Homo sapiens: one gene and its partners. The protein of the gene in region 3 purifies or fractionates together with the protein of the main gene of each other region. This does not show direct contact. Each region holds a gene or a part of one and is shown on either strand. Other genes may lie near its edges. The genes, in order: SNAP29, CCP110 and JADE2.

Region 1 (3,654 bases), on a different chromosome or scaffold from region 3:
TGGAAGGCGGAGGCGGATGGATCACGAAGTCAGGAGGTCGAGACCATCCTGGCTAACACGGTGAAACCCCGTCTCTACTAAAAATACAAAAAATTAGCCAGGCATGGTGGCAGGCGCCTGTAGTCCCAGCTACTCGGGAGGCTGAGGCAGGAGAACGGCATGAACCCGGGAGGCGGAGCTTGCAGTGAGCCGAGATCGCACCACTGCACTCCAGCCTGGGTGACAGAGTGAGACTCCGTCTCAAAAAAAAAGAATTAGCCAGGCATGGTGTGGGCACCTGTGATCCCAGCTACTTGGGAGGCTGAGGCAGGAGAATCGCTTTAACCTGGAAGGCAGAGGTTGCAGTGAGCTGAGATCACGTCTTTGCACTCCAGCCTGGGCAACAAGGGTGAAACTCCATCTCAAAAAAAATAAATAAATAAAATAAAAAATAAATAAATAAAAGAGAGAGAGAGAGATGGTTATGGAACCTGAGTTATCACATAATATCAAGCAGTTTTTCTGGGTTAAATGGAAGAAAAAGGCTATCAAACCAAAAGAATACTATGGTTACAACTATGAAAATACTGAATAAGGGGAAAATGAAATTTTCTGTTTTTGTGTTGCGGTAGGTAAAGTATAGATTGTCTGTAATGTGGCCATGTTGTTTTTGTAATAAAAACAGACACAGTGATCTGAAATACAAACAATAGTAATCTACTTCAGCAGAAACTCCATTCCTTTATCCTTGAACATGTAACACTGAAGTCTACCAAAATCTCATGAATTTTTTTTTTTTTGAGACGGAGTCTTGCTCTGTCGCCCAGGCTGCAGTGCAGTGGCATGATCTCAGCTCACTGCAAGCTCCACCTCCCGGGTTCACACCATTCTCCTGCCTCAGCCTCCCGAGTAGCTGGGACTACGGGCGCCCGCCATCACGCCCAGCTAATTTTTTGTATTTTTAATAGAGACAGGGTTTCACCATGTTAGCCAGGATGGTCTTGATTTCCTGACTTGGTGATCCACCCGCCTCGGCCTCCCCAAGTGCTAGGATTATAGGCGTGAGCCACCGTGCCTGGCCCCCAGTCTCATGTATGATTTTATATTTCGAGCCAAAACCTGAGGAAAGCAACTTCTAACTTTATTTTTTTGATTTTAATTATTTAGCTTTAAATCTTTTTTTTTTTTTTTTTTTTTTTAGAGACAGGGAGACTCTGTCACTGATGCTGTAGTGCAGTGGCACCATCATAGCTTAACTCTAGTCTCTAACACCTGGGCTAAAGCAATCCTTCCACCTCAGTCTCCCCTGTAGCTAGGAATATAGGCACGTGCCATCATGTCTGGCTAATTTTTTTTTTTTTTTAGTTTTTATAGAGACGGGTCTTTGCTATGTTGTCTAGGCTGGTCTCAAACAATCCTCCTACCTTAGCCTCTGAAAGCATGGGATTTTACAGATAAGCCACTGAGCCCAGCCTTATAATTTTCAAATAAAAATCAATGGGCGAATTGGATTAGATATGACAAATTTAGACATAAAGACTTTTTTTTTTTTTTTTCTTGAGACAGGGCCTCCCTCTGTAGCCCAGGTTGGAGTGCACCATTACAGCTCACTGCAGCCTTGATCTCCAGGCCTCATGAGATCCTCTTACCTCAGCCTCCTGAGGAGCTGGGACTACAGGTGTGCACCACAATGCCTGGGTAATTTTTGTAAAGACTGGGTTCCCACTATGTTGCCCAGGCTGGTCTCGAGCTCCTGGGCTTAAGCAATCTACCCACCTTGGCATCCTGAAGTGTCGGGATTACAGGTGTGAGCCACTGCACCCAGCCCTAAAGATTTTTTAAAGCAAAAATTATGTGAAGTGAGTCACATTTGTACAGATTACGCTGAGGTGAACACCCTCTCTTTCAAAGTAGTGGGGTCACAATTATTGGAGAAGCTATTGACAGACTAGATGTCAATCAAGTGAACATGGGATCAGGGAAGAACAGTTCCTGGTTTCACAATGTTTGAGGACAAATATCCCCTGATGAGTAACTTAAAGGGTTGTTGGATCCCTTCATGGCACTGACGTGGACTGAAAGTCTTGGTCATTTGCACTAATCCCCACTTCTGCTCCTTTATACCCAGATGGTAGAAGATGCACTCACCTGTTGTTGGGCTGGGAGGTGAGGGTGCCATTCTGTTCAGGTGGGGTCTCTACTGGTTTGGATTTGAAGTAATTGACCAGCCCCCCAAACACGCTCTTAATGCTATTGATGTGTTTCTGGCTGATCTTCAAATCTTGGTCCATCTTGTCCACCATCTTCTCTGTGCGCTCCAGGACTCCTCGCTGACGGGCGAGCTCCTGGGGAAACCGAGAGGCAGTGGCATTATAGCTTTCTGTGACTCTCCCCCAGGGCAGTCAAGGACCACATGGAGCAGCCCCTTCATAAACTCTCAGTGGGCACATCTGGAGACGGGTACTGTCATCTGTGAGGGGCACACTACCCTTTCCAACAACACATTCCTTTGCCTCTCCCTCCCTGCCCTACCTCTACTTGCTTTCCTCATTTGTTCATGAGACCCTTTTCCTGAGAGGCTGGCTCATGGCGCCATGTTAAGATGGATGGCAGAGGGTGGCGCAGTGATTCACACCCGTAATCCCAGCATTTTGGGAGGCTGAGGCGGGCAGATCATGAGGTCAGGAGTTCAAGACCAGCCTGGCCAACATGGTGAAACCCCCTCTCTACTAAAAATACAAAAAGTAGCCAGGTGTTGTGGCGGGCACCTGTAATCCCAGCTACTCGGGGGGCTGAGGCAGGAGAATTGCTTCAACCCTGAAGGCAGAGGTTGCAGTGAGCCAAGATGGTGCCAATGTACTCCAGCCTGGGCGACAGAGCAAGACTCCGTCTCGGTTGGGGGTGAGGGGAGATGGATGGCAATGTGCCTGTGAGGTTCAGAGTCTATGGCCTGAACTGGAAGCAGATTCTCTCTAGCCCTCCAACTCTGGGAACCCTCACAGGTTGGGCCTGGCACTGCCCCCTGGACTTTGGTTCTTATATTCTTCCTTTAGGAAGTTCCCATTTAAGGAGTTCCCACTGGGCCACCTGAGCCTCCTGGCCATGGTCAAATCCTCAAATTCTATTTCAAGGACCAGTGTCCCCTCTGGGCCCTATTAGTGTCTGACTCTAGCCCATCCACAATTCCAGCTTTAAAACCTGTTAACACGGGTGACCCTGTCCCAGGGCCTTTGCACACACCACTGTCTCCGCCTGTAATGTTTTCCATCCAGATACTTACATGGCTCAGCCTCTCATCCCTCATCCAATTAGGGTCTCCTTTCAAAGGCCACTCTCTCAGAGAGGCCTTCCCAGACATCTTCCCTAAAGGAGAATTCCTTCTTCCAACCACTACCCCTCTTCTCCACCTCCTTTTCTGTTTTGAGATGGAGTCTTGCTCTGTCACCCAGGCTGGAGTGCAGTGGCGTGATATTAGCTCACTGCAACTTCTGCCTCCTGTGTTCAAGCGATTCTCCTGCCTCAGTCTCCTGAGTAGCTGGGATTCCAGGCGCCTGCCACCATGCCTGGCTAGTTTTTTGTATTTTTGGTAGAGACGGGGTTTCACCATGTTGGCCCGGCTGGTCTCGAACCACCCGCCTCGGCCTCCCAAAGTGCTGGGATTACAGGCATGAGCCA
Region 2 (3,137 bases), on a different chromosome or scaffold from region 3:
AAAAAATGGAATTTAACCTATTAAATTAATTTTTCATTTAATTTGTCAACAGAGTCCTTCAGCCAAACCAAGGACAGAATGCACCTGTTCATAGGCTACTTAGTAGACAAGGGTAAGAATGCCACACACGGGTATTGAAAACTACGGAAACCAAGATTAGATTTGAGAGGGAAAAATAAATCTAGTGTTCTTTATGTAAAGGATAATGGTTTTTCAATGGGATTTTTTTTCTTTATAGCATTGGGAAAGATATTTTAAAGTTTTGTCTTCAAATGTAACCCTCTTGGTGTACTGTTGTGTATTCTAATTACTGTCTTAAGTTGGGATGTTTTTACTTTTCATTTCATACCATTTTACTCATAAAGTATTTTAAATATCCATATAGTAAATTCAGCATCACCGAAGTGATTCTCCAACAGAGTATGACTCGTGCTTATAGTCTCCTGCTGAAGCCAGAGTTTAGCTTTCCTTACTGTGCGCATGCATGAGACTTCAGTTCTTTTCAAGCTTATTTGTGCTTTGGACAGTTGATGCAATGTGATTGCTTTCTTTGAATTTTGAACATTTAGACCTTAATGCCAGTGACTTATTAATTTTTTTATATTCAATTAGAACCCCTAAGACATCAGTGAAGGGGGTTGTGCAAAATAGACAGAAGCCTTCACAGAGCAGAGTGCCTAACAGAGTGCCTGTTTCAGGTTTGTAGAAAATAAATTCCTGAAGCCCATTCAATAGAAGGAAGTGCACAAGCTGCCCCATAACTCAGGCCATAGAAGTGGAATAGATTGTCTTTCCTTGCCACCATAATTTTGGCATATTCACAGTCATCTTATTAGTGTTCTTTGGTCTTAGCATTGTATGGCAGTCAGGAAGTCTTAGTAAAAGTGTGATTCCAGTCTTCATTTCTATAATATTTCTGTGGAAAGCACCTTGTATTTTTCATTCTGAAAAAATTGTAGAATTTGCCATGCTTAATTCAGAAAACCTTTTTATTTAATGAATAAAAGATAACGATCATCTCTGGTGCTAAGTCTGTGCATTGTCTGTTCAGCTTGGGGAAGTGTATCTGCACATAAGGGGATAAACTTTCTCCCTCAGACTATAAGATCACATGTGAATATGCCAGTGGGAGGAGGGCTTCATATTTTGCTCAGTCCAAAGCTTGAGCTAAATCTCTCCTTATGTTCATTATTTGAGGATTAAGAGCTAAACTAAAAACTGTATTTTAAAATTCTGTTTATGGTGGCAAGAAGACAAACTCATTCTTGAGCAAATTCAAAGCTCTTAACCAAATGCTTTAATATTTTTTAGGTATCTTTGTTAAGACACTTTGATTAAGCTCACTTAAAAATTATGTGATCCATTTAAAAATACTTTCCAAATGTTGTGCTTTAACTATACTGCTTTCTAGACATTTACAACAAACCTAAATTAATCACCAGGCATTGAAGATTAAACCTTTAATCAATTTTAATCTTTCCATTAATATACAATTAGGCAAATTTTAGAGCTTTATTACTAAGTGATTTCCTTCAAATTAGGAGGGAACAAGCTATTGGTCGTAACTTTGAAATGATGGCTGACCTTTTGTATGTATGTAGTGAAGGTAATTCATAGTGTCACACATATATAGGATAATTTAAAAGATCATCTTTGGAAATCATTGTGAGTGACAGTTAATGGAATTGTCTTAAAGGATTACATAGCTGAAGATACTGTTTACTCCAGAGGCAGTCAGAATAAGCTAGTTTGAAAGATAACCATTTGAAAGGACTCAGACCAAACACCAAACCTGTGGAATTTTAAGACATTTTCTGTTTTTCTCATGTTAGTATTCTATATTGCACTGAAACTTAGCAAGTTGGAAAATCATTGAGGAATTAGTATTGTTTTGCCTGATACCAATTTGCCACAGTGACTACTCTCCATGTTCTTTTCTCATGCATTTCATCTCCACTATTTGTCACTTGTGAACTTATAAGCAAAATAGCAAGTACTGTTTTTATTCAGCAATACTCAACAGTATAAAGGATGTATAGTCAGTCACTGAAGTTAGTAACATACAATGAAGTTCATTATTTTGAACTATTGAGGTTAAATTGCATTGCAACATACTTATTAATACAAATGAACTTAACCCTTGAATTAATATGTATCTAAACAAGTACAAAAGTCTGTTGCTGTTGTTTTCTAAAGATTTACTTATACATGAGTGCATATTTAGACAATTGAAAGAAACTAAATAATTGTGTTCTTTTTTTTTTTTTGAGACAGAGTCTTGTTCTGTTGCCCAGGCTGGAGTGCATTGGTGTGATCTTGGCTCACTGCAATCTCCACCTCCTGGGTTCAAGCCATTCTTCTGCCTGAGCCTCCCAAGTAGCTGGAATTACAGGCGCGTGCCACCATGCCCAGCTAATTTATTGTATTTTTAGTAGAGATGGGGTTTTACCATATTGGCCAGGCTAGTCTCGAACGCCTGACCTCAGGTGATCCGCCCACCTCGGCTTCCCAGAGCTCTGGGATTACAGGTGTAAGCCACCGCGTCCAGCCAGAATTGTATTCTTTTATATAAACTGAGAGTTTGGGATATTGGCTGGTTAAAATGCTAACTATGAATCTGAACACAGGAACTCACTGTCGCTCTTGAAAAGATTACTCTTTCCTGCTTAGAGTTTTAATGGTCTGAATTATGTTTTAAACAAATTTGAAATTATGTTCTGATTTGCTCTAAATGGAGGCAAATCCTTTGTTAAGCAATTTATAGAAAACTAACTTTTCTTATGATAGAATATCATACTCTTAGACTGAAGTAGAATTCTAAAATGTTAAAGTATGCTGCAAAGCATTTAGTTATTTATAGTTTTACAAACCTAAATTGCAATCTCTGATGTTATCGTAAGTGATCTTTGACTTACGGTTTTAAAACACATTTCTTCATTTGATGTTTTGTGCTTGACTAGAGTTTATATAGTGAAATTCAGAAACCACTAATCAAAGCAGAGTAGGAGGTGGTCATGCAAAATGGTTAAGTAAAATAACACATCAGGTGGACTTGGGTTATCAGAGTTCTTCCTTCTAGCTCTGTTCCTTAGGCAACTGCTCTCCTATGCCTCAGTTTTATTATCCTTAAAATGGTC
Region 3 (3,654 bases):
ATCACCACACTGGTCCAAGCCAATCTCATCTCTTGCCTGAACCACTTGTTCATCTCCCAGCTTCCAGTATCAATTCACCCATGTCCAGGCTCCACACAGCTGCCAGAGTGATGTTTAAAAAGCATAAATCAGTCGGGGTGCGGTGACTCACACCTGTAATCCCAGCACTTATGGAGGCCAAAGCAGGTGGCTCACTTGAGCTTAGGAGTTCAAGATCAGTCTGGGCAACATGGCAAATCCCCGACTCTATGAAAAATACAAAAGTTAGCTGGGCATGGTGGCGTGTGCCTGTGGTCCCAGCTGCTGAAGGGGCTGAAGTGGGAGGCCAGGAGGTTGAGGTTGCAGTGAGCTGTGATTATGCTACTGCACTCCAGCCTGGGTGACAGAGTGACACCCTGTCTCAAAAAAAAAAAAAAAAAAAAAAAAAAAAAAGCCAGGCACGGTGGCTCATCCTTATATTCCCAGCACTTTGGGAGACCAAAGTGGGTGGATCACTTGAGAGGTCAGGAATTCGAGACCAGCCTGGCTAATGTGGTGAAACCCCGTCTCTACTAAAAATACAAAAATTAGCCAGGCTTAGTGGCGGAAGCCTGTAATCTCAGCTACTCTGGAGGCTGAGGCAAGAGAATTGCTTGAACCTGGGAGACAGAGGTTGCAGTGAGCCGAGATTGTGCCATTGCCCTCCAGCCTGGACAACAGAGTGGGACTCTGTCTCAAAAAAAAAAAGGTATAAATCAGAAGCTGGACATGGTGATATGCACCTGTAGTTCCAGCTACTTGGGAGGTAGAGGCAGGAGGATCACTTGGGCCCAGGAGTTCAAGGCAAGCCCGGGCAACACAGCAAGACCCCATCTCTAAAAAAAATTAGAACAAAATAAAAATTTTAAAAGGCATAAATCAGATCATATCATGCCCCTAAGAAAATCTTTCAAAGGCTTCATAGATCAAAAGACAAAGCCTAAGCTCCTGACCACAAGACCCTACACAATCTGGCCCCTGCCACCTGGACAGCTTCATACTGACCACTATCCCCTTCCTCACCACCTTCTAGCCATGCTGGGCTCCTTTCATTCCTTTGAACAAGCCAAATATTCCATACTTCGAGCCCTGTGCACACGCTGTACTCCACTCTGTTTGGAATATTCTTCTATGTGGTCTATGCATGTCTGACTTTTCAACCTTCAGGTTTAAGCTTCAGTGTGGCCCATGTCAGTCTATGCTCATCACACTATCTGAAGAAATTCACCACCCAGTGTCCACGGAATACCCATCCCAGCTGTGCTTGTTGAGCTACTTGTTGCATGTCGTTCTCCTTGGGAATGTATATTCCATGAAGAGTAAGGAGCATTCCATTTAGACTCCAGCCAGAACCCCAGTGACATACTAGGGAGTGCTGAGTGTGCTCTCGCTCCCTCCCCCAAGAAGTGTCGGGACCACACAGTCCAGCTGGCCTGCCTGTGGCTTGCAGGAACAAACACCCTGGCCCAAGATTTCGCCCTTGTTTTCACAGCCTGCCTTCCCCGTCTTAACCTCACACATTTTCCAGGAGGCTTTATTTGGTTGGGCTCCTGGCTAATGATCAATGTCAACTCAGTAATAGGGCAGCAATTTGGTGGCAGATGTTTTCTTGGCAGCACTAGTGGTTGGCCTTAGTGAGGGCCTCAGGTCTGGACTTAAAACACCAATGCCCAATGCCAGCCCCCTTTAAAGACCTCTCTGCAAATAAACTCAAATAAACACCCTGGGCCTCCATTAACGCCCTTCCAGCTGACCCTGGGAACAGTGGGCCTTTCAGGCCTGCCACTGCAGCCACTCCCTGGGCAGTTAAAACACCCCAACCTGGCCTCCAGCCTCTCCTCTCCAGGGGCCACTAGGCCTGGCCTGCCTGCCACCACACAGCAGGATTTCGTCCTCTTCTTTAAAAAAAGGGGAAAAAAGGGCTTTCAAGCAGGCAATTTACCATTCCAGACACAATCTTTCAAAGAGAAACAAAAACTCTCCCTGTCTGAGGCAGACCGCTAAGGCGTGTGTGTAATAAGATGCTAATACAATTTAATGATATTTCGGCTGGAAAACCTGTCCTCAGAGCCTCCTTGTGTTGGGAAGGCCAGACATTCAGAAAACAAGAGCTGCACACTCTTAAACCGCTTTAAACCGGGGTCACAGCCCCACTCTTTCCTATCTCTCATTAACTTTAATGCCTTCTCAGGGACAGTAATTGCAGTTACAAAAATGATTTTGTATACAGAGTAGAGGGCTGCTGCCTGGGATCCTCCAGTCGGCTTCCTGGACCTGCTTCTCCAAGTCTAGAGGAGCCTGAACCCTCCTGCAACACCAGCCATTGCCTGTCTGCAACTTCAAGTGTCCCAGAGGGGACTCAGCTCCCCTTGAAGACGCTGCCACACCCACCCTCCAGACCAGTTCTGGGGACGTACCAAGGGGATGGTGGGAGAATGAAAAGGCTCTGTCTACTTTGTTCTTCAGAACCTTCTCACCCTACTCTTTGCCCCAGAGAGGGCAGAGCTCCGTCTACTCGCTCCCATATCGGCTGCCTATTGGCACCTGCAGGATCCTTCTGATCCCTTCTGCAGAGAAGCGAGCTGGCTCTCTGGCCTAGCCTAAAGGTGAGAGATCAAAGGTCCAAGCTGCATCGGGGACCCTCCCCAGGTATAATAAGGATGACTAATACTAATCACGTGCTTATCACATGCCTGCTTTGGGCTTAGTCTTTTTTAGGTAATCACTTATTCTATACATCCACTATGAGATAGGTACTGTTATTAATCCCATTTGCAGAAAGTGCTCCTTGTAACAGAAGGAACTGAGGTATAGAGCCATTATGACAGTTGGTAACTGCACAGCCAGGATTCAAACCTAGGCTGTCTGACTCCAGAAGGTGTACCCCATCTCCAGTGGGCTGAAGTGTACAGGCCTACAAGTTCCAGGGTATGGGTATTCTAGATTCCTATGGGCTGTCTGAAAGGAGCTTTGAGCAGACCTACAATTGTAAGCTTTTGAGCCACATGGTAAGGGTCCTATCTGGAGGACAGGGCAAGCCAGGGGTATCCTGCTCCCCAACTCTGACCTGTTCTCCCCATCAGAGAACCTAAAGGGAGAACTGTGAGGTCCCAAAAAGCCTGCTGCATGTGCCATGAAGAATTTGGACTAGAAGCCTCTTACCTGTGTCATGAGCATAAGACAACTGCCTTCCTGTTAAGAGGAACACTAGGTTAGAGCCAGAACACCCTGCCTCCCAACCTCAAGGATGTGGGGGTCAGTGTCCAGGGCCTATACAGTGTCAATACTCCGTGGTGCATCTAGGACCTGGGGACTGGCAGTCCCACCTCACCAGTCCATGAAAGCTAAGTGGAGATTTCTGACAACCTCTTGGACCACTGTTACTGGCCCTTTAGCCAGGCAATTTAGGGAAAGGAAAAGCATTTTGGACGGGAAAACATTCTGGAAACATTTGCTGCATCCTGAGCCCAAACAACTCTATCCTTAAACACTTCATCTCCAAAAGTGATGGGGGGACCCTTGGCCAAACAATTTCAAAACCAATATTCACTGCAAGTCCTGCTGCCTGGGGCGAGGACTTCCCTCTGTGAGGCATTTGCTGCAGAACCAAATGCTTTTCCACTCAAAACAACAGCC

The links.
Region 1: the proteins of JADE2 (region 3) and SNAP29 purify together in Homo sapiens (affinity purification with mass spectrometry, with the first as the bait; one large-scale study listed by BioGRID). This does not show direct contact.
Region 2: the proteins of JADE2 (region 3) and CCP110 purify together in Homo sapiens (affinity purification with mass spectrometry, with the first as the bait; one large-scale study listed by BioGRID). This does not show direct contact.

What each region holds. Positions count from the first base shown.
Region 1 is NC_000022.11:20,869,007-20,872,660, reverse strand, and holds part of SNAP29 (synaptosomal-associated protein 29), read right to left. Parts: intron 2,325-3,654; coding exon 2,128-2,324; intron 1-2,127. UniProt on the Homo sapiens protein: SNAREs, soluble N-ethylmaleimide-sensitive factor-attachment protein receptors, are essential proteins for fusion of cellular membranes.
Region 2 is NC_000016.10:19,547,903-19,551,039, forward strand, and holds part of CCP110 (centriolar coiled-coil protein of 110 kDa), read left to right. Parts: intron 1-52; coding exon 53-112; intron 113-612; coding exon of another isoform or gene 613-698; intron 699-3,137.
Region 3 is NC_000005.10:134,528,662-134,532,315, reverse strand, and holds part of JADE2 (E3 ubiquitin-protein ligase Jade-2), read right to left. Parts: intron 433-3,654; exon of another isoform or gene 1-432. UniProt on the Homo sapiens protein: Scaffold subunit of some HBO1 complexes, which have a histone H4 acetyltransferase activity. Acts as an E3 ubiquitin-protein ligase mediating the ubiquitination and subsequent proteasomal degradation of target protein histone demethylase KDM1A.